Regions from separate parts of the Homo sapiens genome. Here all the other regions are linked to region 4. The links come from fine-mapping of genetic effects on gene expression. A gene starts in region 4. Each other region holds a variant in brackets. All regions are shown on one strand. Distances are from middle to middle.

Evidence for each region. PIP is the estimated chance that this variant, and not a neighbour inherited with it, causes the effect.
Region 1: its variant is the best candidate, but not a certain one, in a credible set for the expression of KCNMB4 in whole blood (INTERVAL, PIP 0.55).
Region 2: its variant is the best candidate, but not a certain one, in a credible set for the expression of KCNMB4 in esophagus mucosa (GTEx, PIP 0.70).
Region 3: its variant is the best candidate, but not a certain one, in a credible set for the expression of KCNMB4 in esophagus muscle (GTEx, PIP 0.69).
Region 5: its variant is the best candidate, but not a certain one, in a credible set for the expression of KCNMB4 in fibroblasts (GTEx, PIP 0.76).

Annotation. Positions count from the first base shown.
Region 1 is chr12:70,406,982-70,413,077 of GRCh38, reverse strand. All of the region lies in intron 2 of KCNMB4 (potassium calcium-activated channel subfamily M regulatory beta subunit 4), which reads right to left. Among named protein-coding and RNA genes, the nearest start is that of KCNMB4, 44 kb to the right of the region's middle. The variant A/C (reference allele first, on the strand shown) is at 3,188.
Region 2 is chr12:70,042,321-70,048,416 of GRCh38, reverse strand. No RefSeq gene overlaps it. Among named protein-coding and RNA genes, the nearest start is that of LINC02821, 130 kb to the left of the region's middle. The variant T/C (reference allele first, on the strand shown) is at 3,018.
Region 3 is chr12:70,539,137-70,545,232 of GRCh38, reverse strand. It overlaps PTPRB (protein tyrosine phosphatase receptor type B), which reads left to right. Exons shown (of 34, transcript NM_001109754.4): 22 at 570-676; 23 at 4,276-4,375; 24 at 5,211-5,294; 25 at 5,389-5,406; 26 at 5,527-5,608. All of the region lies in intron 6 of PTPRB-AS1 (PTPRB antisense RNA 1), which reads right to left. Among named protein-coding and RNA genes, the nearest start is that of PTPRB-AS1, 74 kb to the right of the region's middle. The variant T/C (reference allele first, on the strand shown) is at 3,377.
Region 4 is chr12:70,363,612-70,369,707 of GRCh38, reverse strand. It overlaps KCNMB4 (potassium calcium-activated channel subfamily M regulatory beta subunit 4), which reads right to left and starts at 3,418. Exons shown (of 3, transcript NM_014505.6): 1 at 2,638-3,418. The coding sequence starts at 2,973. RefSeq lists a silencer at 3,363-3,602.
Region 5 is chr12:70,387,924-70,394,019 of GRCh38, reverse strand. All of the region lies in intron 1 of KCNMB4 (potassium calcium-activated channel subfamily M regulatory beta subunit 4), which reads right to left. Among named protein-coding and RNA genes, the nearest start is that of KCNMB4, 25 kb to the right of the region's middle. The variant T/C (reference allele first, on the strand shown) is at 2,653.

The DNA of each region.
Region 1 (6,096 bases), 43 kb before region 4:
AAGAAAGCCTTCAACTCTGATGTAATCTCTCTTAATATGGAGACAGACACAAATGTATATGGAAAATACTTGGTTTCGGTAAGATTCCAGATTTACTGTTTTGTTTTTTAAGATACAGGATATATCATTGGGTTTAATGTCTAAAGAAAAAGCCAATATGTTCCTGTAAAAAATAGCCTTAGAACCAGTCTATTCTCTAATGATAAGACTGTAAGAAATACTTCTCAGAGTAGAAGACAAAAATAAGTAATTTTTACCAAATATCAAACACAGTATTTAGTAATTCATTCCAATGTCAACAAAATTTTCCTCTGGAATTTGTTCCAAATCTTAGGTCCCATCTTTATATGCACATTTTCCCCATTTGTATACTAAGAGGTCTGCTAGTAAAAACAAAGTTTTTTCTTTAGTAATTTGCTCTATAAAAAAGCCAAAAGAAAAACTTAGAAGCCAATGGTACAATTAAATTCAACATATAAATATATTAAAATAAATCTTTTTTTGAGCTTGCATCTGTTTTTAGAGCTCAATCTGTTTTTAGAATGCAAAGACGTCCGGAAAATAAACTACAACTGACCAATCATTTTTCACTCTATTGGTTATAAACATATTCAGATGCCTATTTCTAAGCATGTAAGTGTTGTCTGTCACACATAACAAGAAATCCAGAGGTAGCATGGCCAGGGCAGGGGCAGCTATTCCACAAGAGTGCCAGGAAGCTGGCTCTTTTTGCTCCACTCTTACTAATGTGTAGATGTCCACTCTCCTGTTTATCACCTCAAAGCTGCATGATGCCTTTTGCTGTTGTGGCATCAGAAAGCAGGAGGCAGCAGCACTCACATCAGAAAAGCAAAGGCTTTCCCAGAACATTCCAGTTAATGGTGCCTCCAAAACAGTTACCCAGGACAGAAAGCCAGAACTGGATCCAATTCCATCCAGTTCTTAACCTCAACCCCTATCAAGCATCATGTACTTCTCTAAATCTGCAGATTCCACTTCCTTCAAGTCCTATGTCCATTCCTCCTTTTCTTCCTCCACTAATTCTACCTTTGTCCAAGCTCCTACCATCCCTTGTCTAGACTGGTACAACAGTCTCCAAATTGTTCATGGATCCTCCAGCTTTGGCTTCTATCAATCTACCCTCCATGCTGCCACTAGACTCATCTTTCTAAAACTTAAATGTGACTGTCACTCCTCCACTGCCCTTAAGACAAATTTAAACCCCTTAGCATGACATACACGCACAGTATTATCTATTTCAACCTCTTCAGTTCATCTACCACTTTCTTTTTTCTTTTTTTAGACAGGGTCTCCCTATGCTGCCCAGGCTAGCCTTAAACTCCTGGACTCAAATGATCCTCCCATCTCAGCCTCCCAAGTAGTGGGGACTACAGGTATATGCCACTGTTCCCAGCTTGAGATGGTAGCATTTTTATGTGTAAAATTTAGGACACTAAATTACAAAAAGAGTAACAACCATGATACCAGAGTGATAAGCTATTCTGTGGCGGCAGGAAGATCTCTGTAGCCCCTGAAATGGGCTTGCTTCACGGAGAGGAAATAGACATTTACAAAAGTGAATTTTCCAAATAATTAAAGCTTAAATTTTAAGTTGAATAAAAACTAATAAAATATTAAAATATTATTGGTAAAAATCTTCCTAAAAATGCATTACACATTTCTTTGCCTTTTAAGGAGAGTAGGTTGAACCAAATTTAACCTTTTTTGATGACTCAGTGTCATCATTATGAAACTCAATTACCGTTGAGGTAGCAGGGCTGTCTCCCTCTCCATTAAATGGCTCTAGACTGTTAACCATTTATTTCTTTACTAATTGCCTCTCCCTTTCACCATTAGGATTTTATCTAGCATCTTAAGTTGTTGTAATTTTGTACAAGTCTTCAGAACCAGGGAATCATAAAACCATAGAATTTGAGAGTTTGAAGGAATTTTAGAGATCATTTCATCCATCAGTCTATCAAATTTTATAGTTAAGAAAACTAAACCCTAAGTAAGTGAGCAGTCTTTTTCTAATCAGTTGCTTTTCATCTTCTATTTTAATGGCTTTAAAACTGTGTTCTGAAGAAACCACTACTCAATTTGAGCTCAGGCCATTATGTTTATCTTTCTTTAAAATGCTAAGGGTAAACTGGATTTAAAAACATATGCTACAGGATAAACACACTTTGAGTGAACTTAGAAATTAGGATATATCTGTTAGCATCAGGAGTACAACATATTTAACAACAGAATTTCTTCTTTCTTCCTTTTTTTTGTGTTGTTGTTTTACTCATTCATAAAACCCTCATTATTTATTTATTCAACACCTCAGCCTCCAATCAGTAAATAACCAGGCCCAACTTTGTTTCTAACTTAGTTGTTAGAAATCTACAGAGGCAGGGAAGAAAAGCATATGTGTTTACTAAGTATTAGCTATGGTGCAAATGTGTTTCTTACAAAACCAAAACAGAAGCTCTTAAGATGGGTAATGCTATCCTCATTTTACAGGCGAGGAAACCAAGATGGAGAAGCTGCACAATTTATCCAAGGTCGTACAATTAATCAGTGATAGAGGAGAAATGTAAATCCCGATGCTTGATGTCACATGACTGCTGCCCTTAAGGAATTCATAATCTATAACAACAAAAAAGTACATATTCAACTCTCTTAACAGTGTGATAAAAGCAACCATGGCAGTGTGGGACTGCAGAAGAGGAAGTAATGAATTATACCTGAAAAGGTGGGAGAAGGTTACACAGTAACATTTGAGGTGAATCTTAATAATAGTAATAAAAACAATAATAGCAAACACTTTTGTAGGAATTATTGTGGGTTAGGCACATGCCATCTCCTTGATATTATATCCCACTTCTGCAAAGGAAACTGAGGCACAGATAGATTTAAGTAACATATCTAAGACCACGCCACTAGAAAGCGTTTGGTTCTAGAGTTCATTCTAGGACTACTGTGCTGTGCTAATTCCCAGAAGTAAAAAAGGTGAAGGTGTCCCCAGGTGAGGAGAAAGAGACAGGAGCAAAGGCATCAAGGTGTATGGGAAACAGAATGACTCGAGGTGACTGATGCAGCTGGAATAAAAGTTAAAATATGTAAAGCAGACCATATTACCACTCTGCTTAAAACCAACGACTGGCTGCTCACTACATTTTAAGAGAAATCTAAGCCCTGT[A/C]TAGTTCTTGCTCCACTCTCCCACTCATTCACAGTTCTCCTGACACACTGGCCTTCCAGTACCTAAAACCACCAAGCTCTTTTTTGCTGCAGAACATTGGCACATGGTAGTATCTCATTCTGAAATATTCTCCCCCTAGCTTTTTACCTAGCTAATTCTTGAACATCCTCTGGTCTTGACCTAATTTTAATTTACACAGAAAGGTCTTTGAAATTCCCCATCATGCCGTAATATCTCATAGCAGCATCCTCAGCTTCCCCTTCATAGCACTACCCTACTTTGTAATTATACTACTGTTGTGACTACAGACTATAGGCTCCATGAAGGCAAGGACCGTGTCTGCTATTTTGTTGTTGTTTTCTTGTTGTTTTGTCTTTGGTTTTCCTTGACTGGCACATAATTCAATGGCAGAAGTTTAAGTTGGAATTGGAAGAGCATGGCCTTTATCCTATAGATAAGAAGAAGGCAGAAAAATTTAATCAAGGACTGTGACAAGATCAAAAGGAGGCTTAAACAAAGCAAAACAAAACCTAGCGTGGTGTGGATGACAGACAAGAGAAAGACCAAGGCTGACAGACTAGTTGAGGATGCCTTCAACAAGCCAGGTGAGAGCCTGAATCCAGGCAGTGGTGGAGGAAGTGAATTCAAGAGACTGCACAGGTGGTGTGGCTGGATTTGTTCATTTGACGTGTGTGTTTGTGTAAGCCTGCTCCGTGTACTCTGTGACCTACTATCCAGAGGTATAAAACAAAGTACTAAAAAGTAAACCTGTATAGAAAAACTCTATGCTCTCCAACAAGAGGAAAAGATAAAAAGACTGATCACTCCTTTTGGCCTTTAGATCCAAAGGGAATTGAAGAATGAATAGTTATTTTCAAAGGGACAAGCCCTCTTCAAGGAGAAGCCAGTTAAGGCAAAGATGAAGAAAGGAAATTGTATGAAAAGATTGAGAATACAGAGAAGTTTTCTGGCAATGAAAAGGGGGTTTCAAAGTATACTCGTTAAGGGGGTATAAGTTAGGTTTTGCTGAGAAGGAATAAGCCAGGGAAAGACTGAGAAAAAAAATGAAAACATGATATAGGGAGAATTGTGAACTTACCTGAATAAAAAAGTGTAAAAACAAAATCTACACATTTTGGAAGGAGACTGAGCCTCGAGGTTAAGGGAGGCAAAGAGTGGAAAGGTTATATGGGAGGGCCACAAATGGACTCAACCCTTGGCATGAATTCACCCCAGTGACGCCTCTGCAGAATCCTTCCTGGGTGTAGAGAGGGATGGCCGCACCGAGACTGACTGCCCACGGCAGGCACAGCTGCTTCGGGGCTGCTTCGGCCGCTGCAGACTCAACACTGGAATACAGCTTGCCTCAACAGGACTTAACCAGTGGAAAGCTAAGACTCCTCTAATCTTTGTCTTAGATTTTTAAAATAACACCCTTTTCTTGAAAGTCAAAACTGGACTATTCTCCCTAATTTCCTGCATTTGAGCGAAATCGAAAGGTTTCTTTAAATATAAAGTTCATCTTTTCAAGAGCATCTGGGAGTCCCTACAGTAAGTCTATTTTAATTTCATATTTAGCAGTAGTAAAAAGTGTACTAAGAGTAGATGGCACCAGGGAGCTGCCATTTTTCACACCTCCAAACAGCACTCCTGTTTCCTCTCACATATGTCATGGTAAAAGAGCCAAACTCCGAACGCCTGCCTTCCCAGAGTCGCTGAAAAATCCTGTCTTGAGTGCTGCTGGGCTGTGATAGACCACCCCCGCTTCTATCTACACCCCCACCGTTTGGGAATGGGACAGTGAGATGATGGATAGGGAATGTGTATCCGTTCTGAAGGAGGTATAATGAGCTTAAATTTACTGTACTGAAGTTAACACAACTGCTATAGGTGACATAATAAGAAATTTGTATTTGGTCTCTGCCCCGGTTCCTGGCACAGAACTTGTAAAACCCTTGTAATTTCCTGAGTAGTCGGGGTGAGAGGAGAATCTTCGTTTTTTCATAGTAAGCCCCTTTCAACCATGCCCAAGTTTATACTAGTGAGGTGACTCTTGGAGGATGGGGACCGGTTGTCAGAAGAACCAACCATGTGAATAGAGGATTAGAATTCAGCACCACCTCAGGCTGGGCGCGGTGGCTCACGCCTGTAATCCCAGCACTTTGGGAGGCTGAGGCGGGCGGATCACGAGGTCAGGAGATCGAGACCATCCTGGCTAACACGGTGAAACCCCGTCTCTACTAAAAATACAAAAAATTAGCCGGGTGTGGTGGCGGGCGCCTGTAGTCCCAGCTACTCGGGAGGCTGAGGCAGGAGAATGGTGTGAACCCGGGAGGCGGAGCTTGCAGTGAGCAGAGATCAAGCCACTGCACTCCAGCCTGGGCGACAGAGTGAGACTCCATCTCAAAAAAAAAAAAAAAAAAAAAAAAAGAATTCAGCACCACCTCTCTCTAGCCACCTCTCCAGGCAAGGGAGAGTTGGCTAGAGATCAACTCAACCACCAAGGGCCAATGCTGTAATCAATCGTGCCTATGTAATAGCCATAAAAACCCTAACAACTCCAGAGCTCCTGGGTTGGTGCATACATCAAGGTGCTGGGAAGGTGGTGTGCCTGGAGAGGGCCCCTTGCTCAATGCATCTCTTCCATCTGGCAGTTCCTGAGTTGTGTCCTTTATAATAAACTGGAATAGTAAGTAGTGTTCTGTGAGCCATTCTAGCAAATTATTGAATGCAAGGAGGGAGGATGTGGGAACCCCTGACTTAGAGAAGGTCAGCCAGAAGTACAGGTAGATAGCTGGGACATGCGCTTGACATCTGAAGTGGGGGTCATCTTGTGGGGCTGGACCCTTTAATTTGTGGGATCTGATGCCAACTCCAGAAACAAACTGAACTGTAGGACACCAGCTAGT
Region 2 (6,096 bases), 320 kb after region 4:
TAATTTTAGTGTATATACTTCAAGTTTTTCTATGTGTTTATATACATGTAACCTAGAAAGCATATATAAGCACATATAGAAGTAATATAATGTTACTTATACAAGTGTGTATATTTTTGTATGAAAATAATGTCATTTTGAAGATATCTTTATGCAGCCTGCTTTTCATTTGACAATAGGTTTTGGAGCTCTAGCTATGTCAGTACACAGCGAGCAATCTCATTCCTTTTAGCTGGTGCATAGTATTTCGTAGCATAGAAATATAAGTTTATTTAACTATTTCCCTCCTGATGGATACTCAATTTGTTTGCTCTTAGCACATATTTCTATTCCAACATTGTGCTTTTTCTCCAGCTTCCAGAGATTAGTTCTGTAACCTCTTTTAGCTCAAAAATTCTATGGCATGAAGGAAATGAAGCATGATTAAGTCTGAAGACATAATAATTCACTCTAGATAACTCATTTATTAAGCAGTGATATAGCACCAAATTGTGAAATATACACCACCATTAAAAACACAGTGCCAAATAAACAAAACAAAAAGATCCAAACAGGTTCAGGCAGACAAATGTCTCTCTGGTAACAAGATTCTAGTTTGTGTTCACTTAAGTATGTGACTCAAAGCTCTGTGTGGATATTCTTGATTACAGCAATTTGTTTTATAATAGTTGAGATTTAACATGGCATCATGCAATGTGCTGATGCTACATGTATTATTTAACCCTAATGATAATCCTTTAGAGCACATTATTACCTTTTGTATTGCTAAAGCAACTAGGGCTTAGAGAGGCCAAGAAATTTTGACCGAGATTACAAACTAGTGGCAAGACCAAGTTTCAAACTCAAGTTGTCTGACTCCAAAAGTCCCTCTTCTTTCCACTGTCTGTCATCAATCCTTTTAACCTGGGTTAGTGCAGAAGGACCTGATGATAAAGAACAAATTCTCACCTGATGCAAAACCTCTCAACATCTGCTCATTTTTTCAGTTCATTTTTCACTTCCTTCCCTGTCCTGAACCTGGCCCTAAATTACTTATAATTCACCAATAACACATTGCTGTGAACTTTTGCAAGCACTGTTTGCCTTTTCTGGAACATTATTCTATTGTCTGTCTGGGCAATCCAGACTTATCTTTCAGCGCAAGCATCATTTTCTCCAGAAAGCCTTTGCTGTACCATCCCCACCCTCACACCTGCCCAAAATTGGGTTAGGGATCCTCCATATTTTCCCATAGTGCTTTGTGTTACTTTCCCTAAAGCATTAAACATCACAAATTGTAAATATTTGTTACTTTCTTGTTTCCCTATACTACACAATGAGCTCCCTGAGAACAGGAGCCACAGCTTATCCGTAATGCATCTCTAGCCCTAGCATAGCGTCTAACACACAGTAGCCACTTGATAAATGTTTCATGAATAAATGAATCTTAGACTAATGGCAGAAATGAACCTGGAAGTAGACTCTTTAGCTCCATACGTGGTGATTGCTCAAGACAGTCACCTCAGTCGCCCCATTGCCAACCTGTTGCCCTCCAAACTCCTCACTTCCCACGATTGCAGGAGTTGTTCTCTGTATGATAACTTAAGAAGATTGTGGCACATGTGGGAAATTTTGGAGACAAAGTCTCTAAAGACAAAACAGTCACCGTTTATGTGGAGATTTATTTTATCTGTGAAAGATGGGGCATTTCTTTATCCCACATGAAGCAGGTAGGTTAAAATGCTAAGAAAGAAAAGGGAGCTGAATTTTACTGAGAAAAAAATAAACTGATGGTAGGAGAAAAATAATGAAGGTCTCCTATGAAATGACAAGGAAAATTTATCATTCAGTAGATTTAAAGAACAAAAATCAAAAGATCCAAACCAGAATGTGTGAAGCATAAAGAGATTTTGCAGATGATAAATTGCTCTACTGTACACATTTTTCTCTTTTCAGTTACAGATTATTTGATGAAAAGAATTCGTTTATTCCAAGTTTGCCAACATAGTTTTTGTTTTAACAGTTCAAGGAATGTATCAATTTTTCCCTAATGGTCTTTGAAGCCTCAAGATATGGAAATTTGGTATTCTAGGTAATGTCTAAAAAGTGTTCATGGAACTGAAACATTCAACTTGTGTTTACTAAATATTAGGAAGAAAACAACAGCATCAGAAAGAAATTAACATATATTTCAGAATGGGCTGACATCTCTCACTGATTATCCAATTATGGTACTATTATTAAAAATAAAAGATAGTAATAATTATAGTTACTATTTACTTAGTGCTAAGCACTCTTTATAGGCTAGGCACTGTGCTAGATTCTGACAATGCAGTAGAAAGCAAAACAGATATTCCTAGCCCCTGGATAGGTAGACATTAAACAGATAATTAGAAGATATGTATATAATTATAAAGGTTAGCAAGAAGAGAGGGTTTTAAAGAAAGAATAACAGAGGAGATCTATTTTACACAGGTAGTCAAGGAAGGTCTTTTTGAGGAAGTAATATTTAAACTGGGACTTGAAGAATGATAAGAGGTGAATAGTGGTGGGAAAAGAATTATAGAAAGAGGACATGGAATATATGAATATCCTGACATTGGAAAGAGCTTGGCATTTTCAAGGAACTGAAAGGAAGGCCTACTTATCAGATGTTTTCCTTTTGGCCCGCAGATCCTGTCCTGCCCGTCCCTGCTCCTGGTAGGCTGGTGTGATTGGGGCCTGACTCAACCTGCAGGAGTGAGGTGGCTTTGCTATGTTTGGCCAATAGAAAGGACTGGTAGGAGATCAGAAGGTGGGTAAAAGGAGGAAGCTAGAAGATTCCTCCCAGTTTTCATTCTGGGTAAGGAGCGCCTCTCCAGCAGTGGTGCTCTCTCCTCTGCGGCTTTAGAGATTTTTGGCTTTGGAGAGAACATAGTGCTAACCCCCTTCTTTATTTTGATCTTAGGATAATTGGCTGGGACAAGATCCTTATTGTTTAATGACACCTCTGTGTATCACAGGGGTGTGATTGTGGTTACAATTCACCTGGTCTATTC[T/C]TTTCTAAAGGATCATAAATTGATAAGAAACAGAGAAGCTAACAAAACACTCACACATAAAAGCCCCATCCTTTTATTTTCTCCCTAACAGAGAAACATTTTAAAAAAAACTCTCTGACCCATTTCTGGAACAGCTTGCAAAACGATCAAAGTTTTGGTCAGGGCAGCCAAGGTTTTTAACAGTGACTCACGTGATCAGAAATCCACGTGGATGCAGCTGCCTGAATTTTTGTGTGTGTGTGGTGAATGATAGTAAGTGGAGAAGTCTACCCCAGGCATAGGAAAGTTGCACATGATATACAGTGAGTTGAGTGTATGATACTTATATATTTATAGTAATAGCTACCATTAACTGGGCACTAATTCTATCCCAGCCTCTGTACTAAATACTTGACATATAATGTTAAATCATCATGGTAGATTAAAATTACCTTCAGCAATGTTAGTATTATTGTCTCCATTCTAGAGAGAAGCAACTGAGGTTTGGGATATTAAGAAACTTATTTAAGATCAAAGAGATGGTAAATTGATACAAATTCACATCCGGCCGACTTTAAAATCCATGACACAATACTACGCTATAGTGTCTTCTCTTTGTCAGTAATCTCATAGTAGCTCAGTTTCACGGTGGAATTAAATATTACAAAACTATGATTTGAATTATATTCAGATTTAAGTATCTTTAGTATTTCAGCCAAGACTGCTAATATGTGACTGGTGGCAATGAGGTAGGAGCAAGAAGGCTGTTAGATACTACTGGAGTCTGCATTTATTGGGGAAATGAAATAAATCTTCGATTTTTTGAATTGTTGTTGCTTTTTAAATACAAATTCTAGATGCATTGCACTGGCCCCCCAGACAGTGATGGAGGCCGATGATGCATCCTCTTTCAGTTACATGATCAATGTATCAATGTATTCTTTATCTCAGAAAGCAGGCATGAGGGTATCTGGTGCTAATTCCAACTAACTACTGTGTTTTTCTTGAGTGCTGTGCAAAAAATCTTCTGGGTTGGGGGGTGAGTCAGCAGAAAAGGGTGCTTTGATGTTTTCCATGACGCTGGGAGTACAGTGGATACATGAGGAGCTTTATGCTTGCCATCCCTGCCTTAGCAACCCATTGCTGGTATTGCAAAAAATGCTTTGAGTTTCTCTCTTCTACTGGACTTCCCAGGACAATTCCTAAAACCCTTACAGATTAATTAAGGGTTAAAGGCTTAAGTCATTATAATACATCATACCAAATATATGGTTAACAAAAATAATAATAATAATAATAATGAAATCTTATTTTCTTTTTGTTCTTGACATGTAAAATAGGAAGAAGAAACCAGGGGAGTTTGATCATGTCTGCTGAGGGAACATACACAGGATGAGTGGCCTGACACCACACACACTAGACCTGGAATGATATTTATCCATAGACGCTTACAGAGGCAGGAAGAGGAGCTGGTGGACAGTTCCTCCTTTGCCTATCATTCTCTGGGATAGCGCAAAATGATCTAGCAGAGTGTTCAGTCCAAGCTCTGTGGGTTAATAAGCTGCATGTTTAGGGAAGTGCCAGCAAGTCCTCTGGTATGATGAGGACCTGGGTCCCAGCCTTGTTGGACTTCCCTTCTTCTGCCATCTCAGCATTCCCGGTCTGGGCTTCCTCCCAGTCACAGAGCCTCCCTGCTATGAACAGGCGCTCAGACACAGGTCTTGCAGTTTGAGGTGTATGATACATGGGACCTTGGCCTTCAGCCTTGTTCCTCCACCTCAGTGTTCTCCCAGGATGTTTGCCAAATATTCCCACCCTGCAGGAAGCCAACTCTCACTCTGGGAGGACTGCCAGGGGTTAGTGTCAGATAAATTAACCTTTACTTCTCACTGCAGTGTAAACTTAAAGACCTATGAGGACCAGCTGAAATTGAGAGTATCTTGTCAAAATGTGTTTGGCTATGTCTTTGCCAACACATTTGTCTTGGCCTATTGTATTTGTATCGTTAGCCCATTGAACAAAAATATCAATCAAAAATCTTCATTTCATAGTTCAGAGTCATTCTCTCAAACCCATCTTCTGTATTAATTCTTGGTAATATCTTTATATTCAAATATGATTTTTCCAATAGCCTTATCTTTCAGTCACTTTAAATTCCATTCCTTCAAGGATTTTGTCCCTTATCCTCCTTCAGCCACCCATTCCTATCACCACATTGTAATCTTATTTCTTAGGATCAATAATTGCTACTCCTTCATTATCTCCATTTCACTCTCTCATCTATTGTCTTTTCCCTGTAATGTTCAACTTCAATAAGACTTTGACCTTATCTGGACTTCTAGTCTATTGATCATAGTACCTTTCCCTTTTCCCTCACCTGCCTTTCAGTTCTCTTCTTTTCCAGTTTAAAATCTGTGACAAACACTATCCTCATTTCTGCGTATGGACTCTTGATTCCTTTGCCTTTCTTTCACTTTGTATTAACTTGGCAAAAAACAACCCTGTTTAAATCTAACTCTCCGCCTCCTCTGCACAGCATCTGGCTGAAAGAAAACACAGTTCTCACCGATGAGTCCCACTTTAAATTTGTGACTATAAATAACAAATGGCCTGACTGCTGCCTGGCAATCTCGCTGTACTTCTCTGGTCCATTTACCGTTCGATTTTCCTAAACAAATATTTTCCACCTTCTCCTCTCTCCTCAAACCCTCAGCAAAACTTTTTCTCCTTCCTTGTTCTCAGATAATTTCCTTCCTTCCTTCCTTCCTTCCTTCCTTCCTTCTTCTTCCTTAAGAAAATTGAAGCACTCAGAAGAGCAGTTCTTCAGACCTTCACTACACCTGTCCCCCACAGCAGCATCTGCAGCTGTATACACTGCTTTCCTGCCTCTTACTAGAGATGACAATCCATGCACCTAAGGCCCATACCTCCACGTACGTATTGAATCCAGTCCTTTTTACACATATGCAAAGACATCACTCAACAATTTTTTTTTTTTTTTTTTTTTTTTGAGACTGAGTCTCGCTCTGTCGCCCAGGCTGGAGTGCAGTGGCGCTATCTCGGCTCACTGCAAGCTCCGCCTTCCGGGTTCACGCCATTC
Region 3 (6,096 bases), 180 kb before region 4:
TTCTCAATAGTTTTCCCTCATGTTAGTAGGTGACACCTCCATTCTTCCAGTTGTTCCCCATCCAGAACATGTGGAATCATCCATACTCTATATTCATCAGCAAATCTTTTAGTTCTTCCTTTGATATATCCAACACTTCTCACTCACTGCCTTCATCACTACCATTCTGAATGAAGCAGTCCCACATGCTTTATTCCCATTGCTTTCCATCTTCCTTACCCTGCTCTTTTCTTTTTCATAGCACACATCTCATCTGATTTATTATATTTGTGTGTTTATTGTCTGACTTCCTCCATGAGAATGTAACCTCTGGAATGGCAGGGACTTTGTTTTGTTCCTTGCAAAGTCCCAGCTACTAGAACAGTGATTGGCGTGTGGCAGGGGCTCAATAAATATTTATGAATAAATTGATGAATGAATGCATGAACCCAGGTCTATCCGATTCCATAACTCATATTCTACCCTGCTACCCACTGACCAGGAACCCGCCCTATTTCTCCTTGAACACATTTTTCAGCTACTGTGTTCAACAACTAATTTATATTTAAATAAATCGGTTTTCTTTTCAGAATCAGCATTCGAGCTTTTACACAGCTCTTTGATGAGGACCTGAAGGAATTCACAAAGCCACTCTATTCAGACACATTTTTTTCTTTACCCATCACTACTGAATCAGGTAAGGCTAACCTTTACATCATGTTCTACCAACTGCCATGTCACCTACAAGAGCCTCTAATGGGGAGATATTGGCTGATGGTGGGGGGAACATTTATTTTCATTTGGAACTTAATCTTTATGTGACCAAAAATTGATGTGGATCAAAGGGATTGTACAACCTCTCTAGAAGAATGGATTGAAAGGGGGTTAATCTAAAAAGAAGGTGGAAGTACAGTATTTTTTTCTATTAAAAATGAATTATTTTCTAAATAGTGAGTGAAAACCATTAAAATCAAGAGTTTTCACAGGCCAAAATATAAGTTACTACAAAACACTTTCAGTTAAAAGTGAGAATGTATATATGCATATACACAGAAATGCTCAGGAAAAAAAGACTAAAAGAAAAAAACACCAAAGTATTAATGATGTGTATCTCAAAGTAATGGAAATACAGGTGATTTTTCTTCCTTTTGCTTATTATGTGTTGACTTTGTAGTACTAAAAACCATTAATATAAAAGACTGTGCATAACAATTTCTGAAAGAGACTTCTCTAGTGTGTTAGAGGGAAAGCCTGAGTAATAATAGTGGCTAGTATTTACTGTTCACCTTCTCTATGGAGACATAGTTTTAAGCATTTTACATGGGATAACTTGTCCAATTCTCATGACAGTCTTTTGAGCTAGATGCTATTATCATCCCCATCTTAAAGATGAGGACATGAGGCACCAAGAGATTAAGTAATTTGCCCAAGATGGTGCAGCTGAAATTCTGGCACTTTCTGCCCAAGCGTACAACCTCTGCACTGCCCTGTCTCTGAATACTTCCACCAGGCTGAGAATAGCATCATTTCATCACCTTCCCTCCCAACACCATCGTCTGCGTAGCCTTTTCCTGTAATCCGTGTTCTGCAATGCTTGATCTCTAGGTCTGGGAAGTTCTTTACAGCTAAAACTGTCTCTCGTGCTGCATGACAAACGATGACTCAGCCTCACAAACATTCCAATCTATTTATGCCAAATATAGGGATAATCTCCCAATTTCAAGCTAAAGGGGGATGAGAACACAGTTAAGAGGATTTAGATGTCTTTACTTATAATTTAATGTAGGGACTTTGTAAACACAATTCTTTCCTTTTTGAAATACTGTTACATGACAAAAATTGCATGTAGTCCAGTACAGGAAGACAGTAAACGTATATTCAAAAAAGGATATTAACTACATTCAAGGAAAGATGATTGTGTTGATTTGATGAGTCTTGAAAAGCAACATGGAACAAACAAATCTAAGATCTTAAAATGCAACTTCAAAAATGGGCCACTTCATAGACCTAAATTTAAGGGATAACACAGTAACACTTTTACAAGAAAACATAGGTGTAAATCTTTGTAACCTTGGATTAGAAAATAGCTTTTTAGATAGGACACCAAAAGCATAAGCTACAAAAGAAAAAATGGATACTCTGGATTTAATCAAAATTAAAAACTTGTGCTTCAAAGGACACTATCAGCAAAGTAAAAAGACAACCTACAGAATAGGAAGAAAATATTTATTTTCCAAATCACATATCTGATAAGGGCTGAATAGCATATAAAGAACTCTTACCTCACAATTTAATAATAAAAACACAAATTACACTATATATATAGTGTAATATATATATTTTTTTCCTTTTTTTTTTTCCTTTTTTTTGAGAAAGTCTCGCTCTGTCGCCCAGGCTGGAGTGCAGTGGTGCGATCTCGGCTCGCTGCAAGCTCCGCCTCCCAGGTTCACGCCATTCTCCTGCCTCAGCCTCCTAAGTAGCAGGGACTACAGGCGCCCGCCACCACGCCTGGCTAATTTTTTTATATTTTTAGTAGAGACAGGGTTTCACGTGTTGGCCAGGATGTTCTCGATCTCCTGACCTTGTGATCCACCTGTCTCGGCCTCCCAAAGTGCTGGGATTACAGGCGTAAGCCACCACGCCAGGCCATATATATATATATATTTTTTTTTTTTCAAGACGGAGTCTTGCTCTGTCACCCAGGCTGTAGTGCGGTGATGCCACCTTGGCTCAATGCAACCTCCACCTCCCAAATTCAAGCAATTCTCCTGCCTCAGCCTCCCCAGTAGCTGGGACTACAGGCATGCGCCACCACACCCGGCTAATTTTTGTATTTTTAGTAGAGACAAGGTTTCACCATGTTGGCCAGGCTGGTCTCGAACTCCTGGCTTCGTGATCTGCCTGCCTCAGCCTCCCAAAATGCTGGGATTACAGGTATGAGCCACCGTGCCCAGCCAAATTACACAATATTTAAATGGGCAAAGGCTCTGAATAGACATGTCTCCAAAGAAGATATACAGTTGACTAATAAGCACATGAAAAGATGCTCAACATCATGAATCATTAGGGAAATGCAAATCAAAATCACAAGAAGATACCACTTCACACCCAGTAGCATGGCTATAATCAAAAAGACAGTAACAAGAGTTAGTGAGGATATGAAGAAATCAGAACCTTCCATACACTGCTTATGAGAATGTAAAATGGTGTCACTGCTTTGAAAAACAGTTTATAGAAATATTAAACCTAGAGTTACCATACGACCCAGCAATTTCACTCCTCAGTATATACCCAGGAGAAATGAAAACATATGTCCACATAGAAACTTGTACATGAATGTTCATAGCAGCATTATTCATAATCGCCAAAAAGTAGAAGCAATTTAAATGTCCATCAA[T/C]GGATAAACAAAATGTGATATATCCATACAATGGACGATTATTCAACCATAAAAAGGAATGAAATCTTGGTATATGCTATAACATGGATGAACCTTGAAAACATTATGCTAAATGAAAGGAGCCAGTCCCAAAAGATCACAGATTTATGATTTCATTTCTATGAAACATCCAGAATAGGCAAATCCACAGACACAGAAAGTAGATTAGTGGTTGCCAGGGATCGCGGGGAGGGAGGAGTGGGACTGACTGCTAATAGGTACGCGGTTTCTTTTGAGGGTGATGAAAATGTTTTAAAATTGATTGTGGTGACATTTGCAAAACTTTGACTATACTAAAGACCACTGAATTGTACAACTTAGATGGGTGAGTTGCATGCTATATGAATGATATTTCAATAAAGCTATTTTAAAAATGAGGCCACTCTTACCTCTTCATAAACTCCCAGTAGCGTTACCATACCAGATAATAAAAATAAGACTTCTTAGAATAGCTCCAAGCAATCCACTGGATTTTCCAAAGCCCCAGATGCTGTGTAACATGTTTTATATAAATGAAATGGCATTTTTATCTTGGTGGCAAACTTATGGCCTTTATCTCAGGTGCCCCAAGCTTTATATACAAGTGCAAAGTCCAAAATTCCTCTATAAGCTATGCAACATTAACTTCAAAAGTATGCAGTGACACCTGGCCTCACTGCTACAGGGTGGGAGCCAGCCTTTCATCATCTTCTTAGGTGCATACTCAGAGCCTTTGGAAAGTAAATGCCTCATCGTGGGCATCACTTGAATTCTATTTGTAATAACATTACTTGGGAGATATGGCTTCAATAGCTTTCTTACTGGTTCCCTAGCACTAATTTTCCCACCTGCGTTTGTTGTTTCTATCTGGATTATTGTAGAGCCCTTGTTTGGAGCTATTGAAGGTGTGAGTGCTGGTCTGTTTTTAATTGGCATGCTAGTGGCTGTTGTTGCCTTATTGATCTGCAGACAGAAAGTGAGGTAAGTACAAAGATCCTTTTGGTGATTGGACCCACAACTTTAAAAATGCAACTGAAAATTCCCTTTAGGCTGAAAACTAAGAAGGGAAAATAATTTAATTTTTCCAGGTTAAATTGTCACTGTTTTCTCAATAAAAACAAGTCAAACTCTAAAGCCATGACTCACTTTTCTCAGCTCTTTTATATCCCATTGATGAATTCAGCCCTTACCAAAGGACTGAGGGGCCATCTATAGCTTTATTTAAAGATGAAGTGACTCCTTTTGCACAGGAAAAAAATATTTTGTGTGTGTGTGTGGTTCATATCCTCATGAAGACAGAGATGTTTGCAAATTGCATGCCCAAGTGCTTTTCTGAAATATCCTGAAAAGTGTGGTTGACATCACCATTTTGTAGTTCATATCTGCCATCCTAATTTAAGAAGGGACCAAAAAGAACCAAATAGCATGTGGCCCCAAGTGTCGTGCCTTCTTCTCTTAGTGAATTTTTTTTCTTAATTTGGCACATGTTCCTCTTTATTGAAGTCGTGTCTGGCATCTGAAATTTACTGGATTTTTTTAAAGCAAAGTTTTATTGAGAATGTGGGAAGTGATTATAACCTGTAGCCAAAAACCAGGAGACAAATCTTCAGTTTTTGCAGAGATCCGTTTCTGGGTGGGAATGATCTACTTTATTCTCTTTCCTTTCCCTCCCTCAGAGATGTTGGCTGAGTGCAAATCTGTATGAATACTGAAAAATCCATATTTGCACAAACATCCACAGCCTTACCATAAATGGAAAAATTTGTTCAAGCCAAGTATCATAATCAGAATAAAAGTTATCTCCCTTATGTTTCAGCCATGGTCGAGAAAGACCCTCTGCCCGTCTGAGCATTCGTAGGGATCGACCATTATCTGTCCACTTAAACCTGGGCCAGAAAGGGTAAGCACCACATTTGCCTTCGTATAATTTGTTGAAAGATGGTATTATGTGAAATTTGCTAACAAAGTCTTCCTCTTTTGGCTTCTCTTCACAGTAACCGGAAAACTTCTTGGTAAGAGAGAGAACACATTAATTACTATATTATCTGCCTTTGAAATATGAGTCAGAATAGTTATGGCACTTTCCCTTTTCTGCAGTAACTCTTTTCTGTTTGTTTCATTTTTAATTACAGTCCAATAAAAATAAATCAGTTTGAAGGGCATTTCATGAAGCTACAGGCTGACTCCAACTACCTTCTATCCAAGGAATACGAGGTACAACTCAGGCAGAATGAAGCTTCAGCATCCCTAGTTCTTAGCAGAATTTCCTTCCTAATGTTTACTGTGTCATCATAGGCTGATTGAGCTCAGAAGTTAGGAGGCTGCTTAGAATCTCAGCTGAGCACTCTTTTATGCCTAAACTATGCCCTGAATAGAATATACCATCTAATCTTAGAGGCCAGCTTGAGCTCCAGAATAACACAGCAAACCAAGGGCTACCTGGATCAGATAGTAAGGAAGAATTAACAAATCTCAAATGCAGACCTAAAGCTGTCAGATATTCAGCCTGGCCATTTGCTTGGCTGGAAGATGCCGTGGTTTCGCAAAAAGCACGTAGCTTTTGGAACTGATTCTCAGGTTTGCCACTTGGGTGACCTGGGGCACATCAGTTATCCTGACTGAGCCTCACCTGTAAAATAGTGAGACCACCACCTCCCTTGTGGGGCTGTTGTGGGGATCAGGGCTAATGCATGTTGAGTACT
Region 4 (6,096 bases):
GGCTTAAGAAATTCTGTATTTGCAATGTATTCTTTCCCTCTCCTGCCTCTTACTGTAATTAATGCAGGAAACTCAAGGGAGAGGAAAAAACTCCTTATTCTATTTTTTCTAAGAAGTGATTTCCTAAGTGGTTTCTTGTGTTGGTGGGTCATGAAGAAAAGCCTGGAGGCGGCTGGGATTCAAGACACTGTTGGGAATCTAGACATTCTACAAAGAAACAGAGGGGAAGCATAGGCCTTCAATAAAGAGGTAAAGTAAGGCAAAGAAAAGATCTAGGCAGCCAAGAGCCAACAGGAATGGACAATGGGTATTGCCTAATTGCAGGGACACTGTGGAAACACTCTGCTTATGTACATGACTCTGGCATAATATTTTTATTACATTGAATTTTTCCATCACACTGCCTATAAGAATTTCCAAATTGAGAATTTATTGGTCAAAAATAGAAAGGTGATGCTAAAGAACAAACTTACAGTCTATAAATGATACAACATAATTATAATCTGGATAAAGAGATATAAATTGGTTTGGCTGAGAAAACCTTGACTAAAATGAATAGGATGTTGTCCATGACTTCTGTAACATAAATATATTCTTCTCCAGTTCTGTCAGTTCCTGAATACTTTACTTTATAAAATGTATTTTGTTCAGGTACTTTTTCAAAACAACTGTTGCCAAGATCTGAACTGGCACTGGAAAAAAAATGATTATTTTCAGGGGAGAGAGAGATAAAGAAAAGAGAGAGGAGAAATTTTAGTATTACATAAAGCATTGGGATTGCTTCTAGGTAATTTAAAAATCAACGTCCCAATGATTTCAATTTACTTTTTCTGCCAGATACTTCAAACTGCCTGAAAATTGTGAAGCAGTCTTTTTGTAATAAATTATAATTTGTCCTTGTCTTGATTAGATATTAGCCATTTATTAATGTGTGTGTGCATATATATGTATATATAGATATGAAATTTATTAGTGCTTGAACCACTATCTTAAAATAATTAGCAACGTTTCACCAACTATAACAACTTCTAAATGATGAACTGCCATATAATTTCTAAATCATTACTACTGGTTGGCACTCATCTTTGACATTATTGATTTAATTCTAAAAAAAAAAATGTTTCTAAAACCCTGAGATTTCTTTTTAAATTCCTGAGCATTAAGAGGATCAAGTTACAACATTTGTCTTTGAGACGTTATCACCTCTTCAAGATCTTTAACATTATACTCCAAATTCTATATTCTTAGTCCTATATTTACTGCTTATGTATTATTGATATTTTTTAAGGTAAATCAATATTCATTTGTCGACAGGAGCATTTTTTTTTTGAGAGGAGTCATTCATATTTTTAAAAAGAAATATTTTCTAAATGTCTCAAATTCAAGAATTTACTGTTCAGGAGGTAAGACCACAAGTTTTATTGCAGAGTGACGGTAAGCTGTTTTAAATACTATTATAATATTAATGTAGAATTTTTTTCTTTTGGATTAATATAAATATATCTTGTTAGAGTTAACAGAAAGTTTTCCTGTGAACACAAGATGCATTCCCTTTTGGACTGTTTTTCTGCTTGATCCCTCAAAAAAAGGAAAAATGTCAGTAACTTTTAAAAAGATACATACCTTTGATAGTTAAGCAACAAGGAGAGCAGAAAAGATCAAGGGAAGTAGAAACGGAACCAGAACCAGGTGCACTACAAAGCTCAATTAGTTCACAGGCTAAGGACACTGCTTTTTATAAGTTATTTTTCTCCATTGGGAACAGTTTTCTGAGACTTCCTCTCTCTGCTCTCCATCCCGGGAGTCCTAACCAGGTTTTATCTTTTTTTTTTTTCTTTTTCTTTTTCTTCTTGCTTGCTTTCGAGACCAATAGAAGTTGTCAGAGAAGTCATATTAGGTACATTTCACTGAAGGTTTTCTATTTTCAGCAAGTTTTACTGTTCTCCAGACGACTCCTGACTGTCCCTAAACACAAAGGGTAACTAGGCTCCCTGTAGACTCTTTTGAGAATCTATTTCATGAAAACTAGGAGCCCTCTGTACTTCCCAAAATGGACCCGCAATATTCCACATTTGATTCCGGGTCGTTTGTCAAGCCACAAAAGCTTATCTTTGAACCCCAAGTTGAAAATGCCTATGTAGAGCGAAAAGGTGAGGAACTCTCTCACAACTTTCGAGAGTCCCCTCGACCTTTCAAGGAAGGTCATTCCATCTGAGTTCTAGATGAGACCAGCTGAAGCTCGGACCTTGACCGTGAGCTGGAGTAGGTGGATCCCCGCTAACCACTGGCTTTAAATGGAGGAAAAGTTAACTTTCTTGGCTCCTTGCACTTCTCCAAACCCAGTCCGGTAGGCGCAGGACCCGGACTGGGTCGAGGCCTCAAAATCTGAGACCAGGCAAGACAGGTTTTAAAGTAAGCCTCTGGGCACCACTGGTCGCCGCGCGTAAACCCACCTGAAAAGACCGGAGCCCTGGGGCTCCCTGATGTAGTCATTCCTGGTTTGAGCACAGCCTGCGCCACCTGGTCTCCTCCTAGCAATGCGAGCACACGCCGAACCCTCCCCGCGCGGAGTCTAACACCGACGCTGCCTCCAAACCTCCCTCGCGGGGAGCCCCTGGGTGCGCGGGGCGTTCTTACCTTGGGGTTGGTCAGGAGCTGGTGCTCGTCGCTGTGCAGCAGCGCCCTAGAGTTGGACTCAGAGTTGTTCACGTAGACCTGGACGCAGGGGTACTGCGAGGTGCCCCTGCAGTCGGCGCCACAGGTGAAGGTGCACTCGAACACCTCGCCGATCTGCTGCACCGACAGCACCGTGCAATTGGCCTCCGTGGCTTGCAGATCCTGCAGCGCGGGACTCAGCCAGCAGAAGCCGAAGATGAAGAGCGACACGACGCCGGAGATGATGAGAAACAAGCCGAGCCGGATGCTCTTGTCCTCGGCTTCCGTGTACTCGTAAGCCACCCGGAGCTTCGCCATCGCCCCCCACTCTCGGCGGCTGGCGTGCTCCCCCCGCCCCCTCCCGCCCCCGGCGCCGAGCCCGACTGCCTCGGGCGGGAGGAGCCGCCGCCGCCACCGCCGCCGCCGCGCGACAGCAGGGGAGTGGGCGGCGAGGGGGAGCGCGCGAGAACAAAGGGGCCGAGGCCAGCGACGCCCCCGGCGGCGGCGGCGGCAGCGCCCCCCAGCCCCCCAGCCGCCGCCTGGGCCCCGCGGTGCAGCAGCCGCTTCAGAGCCTCCTGCACCCTCGGGCGCGGGGAGCGCACGGACCGCTCCAGCTTCCAGCGCCCCCTGCCAGCCTCCGCCCCCGCACTCTCCCCGCCTCCCCCACCCCGCCTCCTCTCGTCGGGTGTCTCTCTGTCTCCATCGCCCGCTGGCCGCTACTCCGCTGACTCGCCCGGCAGCTGCCCCAAGGCTAGGAGTGTCTGAGCTGGGGCGAGCCCGGGGGCTCCCCCGTGCAGGAGGAGGCTCCGCCCCGCCCCGTCCGCAGCAGACCCGGGCCCTTCCGCCCCGCCCCGCTCCGCCCCGCCCCGCCCGGGGGCGTCTCCTTTGGGCGAGGGGCTGACGGGCACAAGCGACAGCGGCGACTTGCAATCGGAATCTTCGCTCACTCCCCTTAGAGGGACGTCCGAGATGAAAGATTAAGATCAATTTAGCTTAACCGGAGGGAAGTTAAAATAATAATAATAATAAGAGGGGAGGGTGGAGTTCAAGTGGAGCGGCGGGAATCTTGAACTCCAAACGAGTACTGGTCACCTGCAGGGAGAGCGGCCAGGCTCCGGGCGCACCCCGGGAAGCGGGCACGGGTGGCGGTGTGGGAGGACACGAGCCGCCCAGGCCGGGCGGATCGAGGTGAAAGCCCCAGGCTAGCGGTGTGCGCTGGGAGGTCCCCGGGGACGACTGAATCGCAGGTTCCCATGCCACGGGCGGGCTGGCGCGCGGTGGTGCCGGAGGCGTGACCCAGCCGCGCCCACGCCGCCAGCGGCTGCGCCCAAGGGAGCGCAGTAACCGTCCAGTCCCAGGACTTGGGCCTCCTAACCGTCTTGGCGCAGACCCGCGCCCCCTGACCCTGCTGAGGCCGGGAGGGCTGCAGGATTGGAGTTAAACAAGCTGAGTCAGGTGGAGTTTGCTGTGGAGGCAATGTGCGTGGGGGCAGGAGGCTGGACGAAGGAAACTTGCTGCTTAGGTCGTCGGTGACCCTTGTGGCAACTTAGGTCTCTGGCAGCCGAGTTGACCCCAACTTGATTTGCCCCCATGGCTGGGGCTGACTGAGACCAAAGGAAAAAGGTGGAGAGCTTTGCAGCCTGGAAAGAAATACCACTTTACCCATCAGAAAAGTACTCTTGCTTTGGGGCTCGCAAGAACAGAATCATTTCTGTCGTTTCCCTCCTTAGGAGTCTTGCCACCCCTGACCCGCCCCAGGATTTGTAGATGAGGTTTCCAGGAGCGCTGCTTAAAGCGACAGCGCCGGGCAGACCCACTTTGGGACAGGTACTGTTTCTAGACCTGTGTTCTGCTCTTAATTCTTGCCGTTGCTCCCTCCTCCCCCAATTACGCTAACAATGCTTCAGCCTCTATTGTTTTCGCGACCTTTTTAAAGTTAGAATGACCTTTTCCCAAACTACACTTTTATCATAAAATCAAACTTGAGAACTATTTATATGTACATTTCGAAGAATAAAATCAGAATATTAACTTCCTTGCAAACTACATAAACTTTTTTTGTTTGCTTGTAAGTCTCAAATGAATAAACTCTTAATTATGTTCCTGATGAATACGGAAACATGGAATCATGGAATTCTTGACTTCTCTTTCCTGGACTTCAAATGTTACTTAACTGGTATTGAGTACCTTTCGACTGCAGTTCTGATAACGTTATTTTGAAGCACTACATTATGACAGGTAACAAGTATTTCCCAGCAATGGGCAAATTAATTACAGGAAGATCCTAAGTGTCTTTTTCTCAATAAATTAAGAAGATGTAGAGTTTGAAAAACGTCCAAATTAGGAAGATGCTTTGTTCTCTAATACCTTTCAGGTTTTGAGATTTTCTTTTTTTAATTTAAATGTAAGAATTGTATTCTTTTCCTGTTAGCATAAAGACAATTGTGATTACATTGCTTAAAAGTGAGTTTAATAATTGAAATAGCATAACCGAAAATCACAAATCTTCAATCTGAATCTTTTTCCTATTGCAGGAAAAATAAAAAACATAGGAAATAATCTTTTTTTTCTATTGTTATAATCTTCTTTTCCAAGAAAGGAAAAGCTATGTCTAAGATCTGAAGCAATGATGAACAAATAACAAGATACAATTATTCTAGCTCAGTATGTTGAGGAACTGAAATGAGGCAGAATTAATTCCTATTAATGCACAGCAGTTGGGGGACTACCAATAATTTAATGAATATGGTTCGTTTTTCAATGATTCCAGAGCTCAAAGTCTTCTGTGAATGAAACCTCTGCCTCAAAACTGAAGTACGGTGGTCTAAGTCTAGGGAACAAAATCAGAAAATTCTATCTTATTTTAACTGAAATTCTTGAAGTTTTAAAATTCATTTTCTTTCAGTTCTGCATTTAGTCAATTTCTTTCTTGGCAATTATTCTTAAAGTATTTAAAGAAACTTGTGTCTTCTGTTCTCTAGACATTTTTTTCTCCTGTTTCCTGTTTTTAATTTAGCTTTTCTCTGAACACTTTTATCTTCACATCTTTATTGAAAGTCAAACGTATTAAGACTTCACAAATTAAATCAATTTCTATTTTATTCTTAATGAAACACTGGAAGTGTTTATTAGTTTTACTTACTTGAAGCGGAGCTGCTTTATCACATTCCCAAGGAAGATTGGATATGTCAGCCCCTCAGTTTCAGAATACAGGTCACCACTTACTAAGTCAGAATGGTAGTAAGAACTCCAGGAAAGCTCAGAAATGCTAAGATCTGAGGTCACTTAAAATCTCTGTTCCCTGTGAAAGGTGGAAGTAGCACAGAAAAAGCAGCTAGTCCTTTCTTTGAATAGTGTTCCACCAATTAAGATTAAAAATGTAATATTAAGAACCAGACTGACTTATTTGATGTACATCGTCTGCAGTAGTTTTTCCAGTAG
Region 5 (6,096 bases), 24 kb before region 4:
TTGGCCTCCAGAGTATAAGAGAAGGCTTCACAGAAGAGATGACTTGATTTGTGTCTTTAAGGCTGAACAGGAATTTGCTTGTCAGAGAATGGGCTGGGAAGGTGACATCCCAAGAAGAAATGGAATGTACAGAGGCTGTGTATGGATGTTCCAGAAAGACTGAGTCATCTAATGTGCCTTGGAGGACAAGGGGCATAGGAGATGGCGTTGGAAAATGCCCAAATTATCTGACCTACTATTCACTGAAGAATTGTTCCTCTCTCCTTAAATGTTTCTGTAAAAAGTTGCTCACTACCTCCCAGAGAATACACCCACGCTCCAATGCATAGTTTTTTTAGTTAGAATTTACTATCATATGTTGATATGATATCTGGATTTTTGGAATTTAATAATATTCACTTAACTTCTGCATTCAGGCAGACTGCTAAGGTTGGTTATATTATTAAGACTGAAAAGTTCGGCATGGCATTCCATCTTCAAAATAGTTCATTTAGTTTTAGAGTTAGAAAATAAAAACACGGCGGGGCGTGGTGGCTCACACCTGTAATCCCAGCACTTTGGGGGGCCAAGGCGGGTGGGTCACAAGGTCAGGAGTTCAAGATCAGGCTGGCCAAGATGGTGAAACTCCTTCTCTACTAAAACAACAAAAATTAGCTAGGCATGGTGGCAGGAGCCTGTAATCCCAGCTACTTAGGAGGCTGAGGCAGGAGAATCGCTTGAACCCGGGAGGCAGAGGTTGTAGTGAGCCGAGATCGCGCCACTGCACTCCAGTCTGGGCGACAGAGTGAGACTCTTTCTCAAAAATAAAATAAAATAAATAAAATAAAATAAAAACACACAGTCTTTGCCAAAAATAGAAGTTGAATCCAAATAGAAGCAATCACACCAAAACAAGAAATTTTAATCTGGAAGAAGTTCAATAGTTATTAATAATTATAACAAACATGACAGGGCCTATAAACATTTGTTTAATAACTCCTGATCAGAATTTAAAATCCTGAGGAGATGGCCAATACTCTTTCTTTAAATTTTATTATTTTTTTATTATATTTTATGGGATACATGTGCAGAACATGCAGGTTTGTTACATAGACATACATGTGCCATGGTGGTTTGCTGCACCCATCAACCCCTCATCTATAGTAGGTATTTCTCCTAATGCTATTTCTCCCCGAGTTTCCCACTCCCCAACAGGCCCCAGTGTGTGATGTTGCCCTCCCTATGTCCCTATGTTCTCATTTTTCAACTTCCACTTATGAGTGAGAACATGCAGTGTTTGGTTTTCTGTTCCTGTGTTAGTTTGCTGAGAATGATGGTTTCCAGCTTCATCCATGTCCCTGCAAAGGACATGAACTCATCTTTTTTTATGGCTGCATTAGTATTCCATGGTGTATACGTGCCACATTTTCTTTATCCAGTCTATCATTGATGGGCATTTAGGTTGGTTCCAAGTTTTTGCTATTGTGAACAGTGCTGCAATAAACAAACGTGTGCATGTGTCTTTATAGAATGATTTATAATCCTTTGGGTATACACCCAGTATACCCAGTATACCATTTGCTGGGTCAAATGGTATTTCTGGTTCTAGATCCTTGAGGAATCACCACATTGTCTTCCACAATGGTTGAACTAATGTACACTCCCACCAACAGTGTAAAAGCATTCCTATTTCTCCACATCCTCTCCAGCATCTGTTATTTCCTGACTTTTTAATGACTGCCATTCTAACTGGTGTGAGATGGTATCTCATTGTGGTTTTGATTTGCATTTCTCTAATGGAGATGGTCAATACTCTTATGACACTGAAATGAAATAAAACTTTCTTAAATGTTCATGCACACATTCAGATGGCTTCATTGATGGCATTATTTGTAGCTATATTGTGTACTGTAAGGTACACAAATTCAATGTGTGTATGTATGGATATATATACAATGAAATATTACAACCATCATTTCTGCATGAAGGGGATCAACAAGCCCTGTCTATTGTAAGTCCTCTAGAACCAGTATGGTGATGATAAAAAAAACTGGTGCTTCCTATTTGTAGCAGAATATGTTTTCTAAAGAGAGCTGCATTAATATACATCCCATTTCACATACTCTTACAATGTGATGTTGGCACTCCTCAATTGAGAGGTGGAGGTCTAGCTTCTCTTCCTTAGCACATAAATGAGCCATTGATTACAGCAATGATTCAGTGTGACTTCAAGGTTAGATCAGAAAAGGTGATAAAGCACCTGCTTGCATCTCTCTCGAGAATGCTCATCCTTGGTCTCCAGACAGTATTCTACAAGGAAACCCAAACTGGCCCATAATGAGAGATCACATGAAAGGCCTATGTGGAGAGGACCTCAGACTATATTCTTCTCTGTGTCCTTTATAAATTTCTGACCCACAGAATTTGTGAACATAGGCCAGGCGCAGTGGCTCACACCTGTAATCCTAGAGCCTTCGGAGGCCAAGGCAGGGGGACTGCTTGAACCCAGGAGTTCGAGACTAGCCAGGGCAACATAGCAAGACCCTCTGTCTACAGAACATATTTTTTTAATTAGCTGGGTGTACTGGTATATGTCTTTAGTCATAGTTAGTCAGGAGATTGAGAGGTGAGGATAGCTTGAGCCCTGGAGTTTGAGGTTACAGTGAGCTATGA[T/C]TGTGCCACTGCACTCCAGCCTGGGTGACAGAGCAAGACCCTTTCTCTAAAAAAAAATAATAATAAATAAAAAATAAAAGAATGTGTGAACATATGAAAAATGACTTGAGCCACAGGGATCTTTGACAGTGGCTGAGATCACAGGACATCTAAGATTAAAATAAATAGATAACCTTCTAAGGTTCTTCTTTATTTACATACCTGAAAGTATAAAAACACTTGAGGTTTGATGAAATGAAGTCTATGAGTCACTGTGATGTAAGGTAGGACTCCTCAGCCAATCCCAGGCCCAAAGCTCCTTAGAGGAAGGGTGAGGGGGCTGGTTTATACTTAAAGCCCTTGTGGTAGAACCTCAAGTCCTACCTACTGAAAATCTAGCCTTTCCCAGCAGAACATGCCGACATGTAGCAGAGTAGTATAGAGCAGAAAGGGCAGATATTCAGAATAGTATTGAACACTGGCTCTACGCTAATGCTAATCCCTGGGGACTCTAAGTACACCTGTGCTTAGAATGAGAGCTCATGGGGGTCAGGGGAAAATGAAGTTTTGGTCCAAGTTAGTGTCACAATAGGCCCAGGGAGTCCATGAACTCTCTTCACGATTGTTCCTACAGATCCTGAAAGTATAGCGTCTTCACATTTTGGAGGAAACATATACTGACATTTGGGATTGCTTCTCTGATCAATATACTGAGTAACCCAGAACCTGCCAGCTTTCAGTAGCAATCAGAGCAGGAAAACCTGCTCAAGGCTACAGAGCAGGAAGCTGTCTCAATTCATCTCTATGGCTCAGTGGCTTCAATAACAAACAAGAGTCTATGACAGATCAGCGGATATATGGAGCCCAGAGAGAGCCCTGATGGTATAAAGCAAACCCATGCTTTCTTTGGCAAGTGACTATTCTCCTTTTGAGAAACAAGTGGTTTGTTACTGGGTCCCAGTAGGGTCTGAATGCCTGAACATGCAACATCAATTTACCATTTTACCCACTGTATGCTGGGCTATTTTGACTCACTAAAACATAAAGTTGGGATTTACAGGGCTGAAGCAGGACTTGTTGGCAAATAAATTTCAGAAGCAAATGGCTCACACTCCCAAGGCACCTTCTCTTTTTATACCACCACCTGCCCCATCTTGTGCTAAAATGCAGTTGTTAATCTGGGTTGGTTTTCCTCATACTGGGATATACAGACCCCAAGGAATACTCTGCAGTGTGCCAGGAGGTTCTTAAAGCCTATGATCAGTTTTGATGGATGAGCAAATTTGAGCTCATTGAGCATAACTCTGGGCAGAACATCTGATTGTTTATTTCTCTTGAAAGAAATGATGGAGGTACAGTCCTACAATATTTTATGGACACTGGTTAACAAATAGTAAACTTGTTTCAAGTAACATGATTAGAGTGTGTTAAATCCTCAGAAATAGAACTCTGATCTATACATGGGCCTACAAATTCTATTTCCCATTCACCCATTCTCGGAAAGCTATTTGAGGATGTACTCCAACAAAACAAAGAAATAAATTAAGAAAGAGGAAGGCATGGGATCAAGGAAACAAGGTACTCAACACAAGAAAGATGCAGCAGGCCTAAGGTGCATCCAGTTCAGTATGAGAAGTAGGCAGATGGGGCCCAGCAAGGGTGTCCCACGAAATTTTTATTTGATCTTATTTTTTTGACACAGGGTCTCACTCTGTCACCCAGGCTAAAGTGCAGTGGTGTGATCTTGGCTCACTGCAGCCTCAACCTCCCAGGCTCAAGTGATCCTTCTGCCTTAGCCCCCCAAGTAGCTGGGACTACAGGCACATGCTACCATGCCCAGCTAATTTTTGTATTTTTTGTAGAGACAGATTCTCAATATGTTGCCCAGGCTGGTCCCAAACTCCTGGGCTCAAGGGATCTGCCTGCCTCAGCCTCCCAAAGTGCTGGGATCCCAGGCGTGAGCCACCATGCCTGGCTAAGAAATTTTTAAAAAGAATGAGAGAAATGTGGAACTAAATGACTACCTATTGAGAATGGTCATATGACAAACAGTATACAAATGGGTTTTACAATTCTGCAGGAGAATTTTGGAAAAATAAGAGAAAGGTACACAGGAAAGGTACAGGAAAGTAAGAAAATAAAAAAGGGAGATGATTCTTACCTCAAGGAAAATAAGTTATAGAAGTGAACAGTACTTTACATAGTTAAAGTAAGTTGAGCACTCAATATTAATTTATCCAAAAATTATGATAGAATCATATTTATTTAAAGAATAAAGAGAGGAAAATGGGGTAGGATGGTGTGGTGCAAGAAAGCTAAGTCCATATAATCCATCATAGGTGGTCAACAGTATCTCAACTGCATACATCAGAAAACCTATTGTTTAGAAACACAGAGGTAAAAACCAGAAAAAAAAAAAAGCCCTAAAAATAGTTAAAACCAGTTATCTCTGGGTGGCACAAGGGTTTGGAGCAGTGGAGTACTACTCCTTACCCTCAAATAAAAGTACAGTGCAATTTGATTTTCAAAACTATGTTCATAATAACAAGAGCAAACATTCACTGAAGGCTTACCATATGCAAGGAACTATCCTAGGAGCTTTCCATATATTAACTCATTACTCCTCATAACCCAAGGAGACAGGCTCTATTATAATTCTCATTTTACAGGTGAGGGAACTGAGGCACATCTGAAGTCACACTGCTATTCTAATTAAAAATTAATAATCAAGACATACAAATGGCAAACAGGCATATGAAAAGGTACTCAATATCACTGATCATCAGAGAAATGCAAATCAAAACTACAATGAGATATCATCTCACCCCAGTTAAAATGGCTTTTATTCAAAAGACAGACAATAACAAATGCTGGCAAGGATGTAGAGAAAAGGGAATCCTTGTACACTCTTGGTGGGAGTGTAAATTAGTACAACCACTAGGGAGAACAGTTTGGAGAACAGTTTTGAGTAACTAAACTGGAGAACAATGTAGTTACTCAAAAAACTAAAAATTTAGCTACCATCCGATTCAGCAATCCCACTGCTGGGTATATACCCAAAAGAAAAGAAATCAGTATATCAAAGAAACGTCTGCACTCCTGTATTTGTTGCAGCACTGTTTTCAATAGGTAAGATTTGGAAGTGACCTAAGTGTCCATCAACAGATGAATGGATAAAGAAAATGGGGTACATATATACAATAGAGTACTATTGAGCTATAAAAAAGAATGAGATCCCATCATTTGCAACATCATGGACGGAACTGGAGATCATTAAGTTAAGTGAAATAAGCAAGGCATAGAAAGACAATGGTTACATGTTCTCACTTATTTGAGAGATCTAAAAATCAAAACAATTGAACTCATGGATAGAGAGTAGAAGGATGGTTACCAGAAGCTAGGAAGGGTAGTGGAGGGCTGTGGGGGAGGTGGGGATGGTTAATGAGTACAAAAAATAAAAATAAA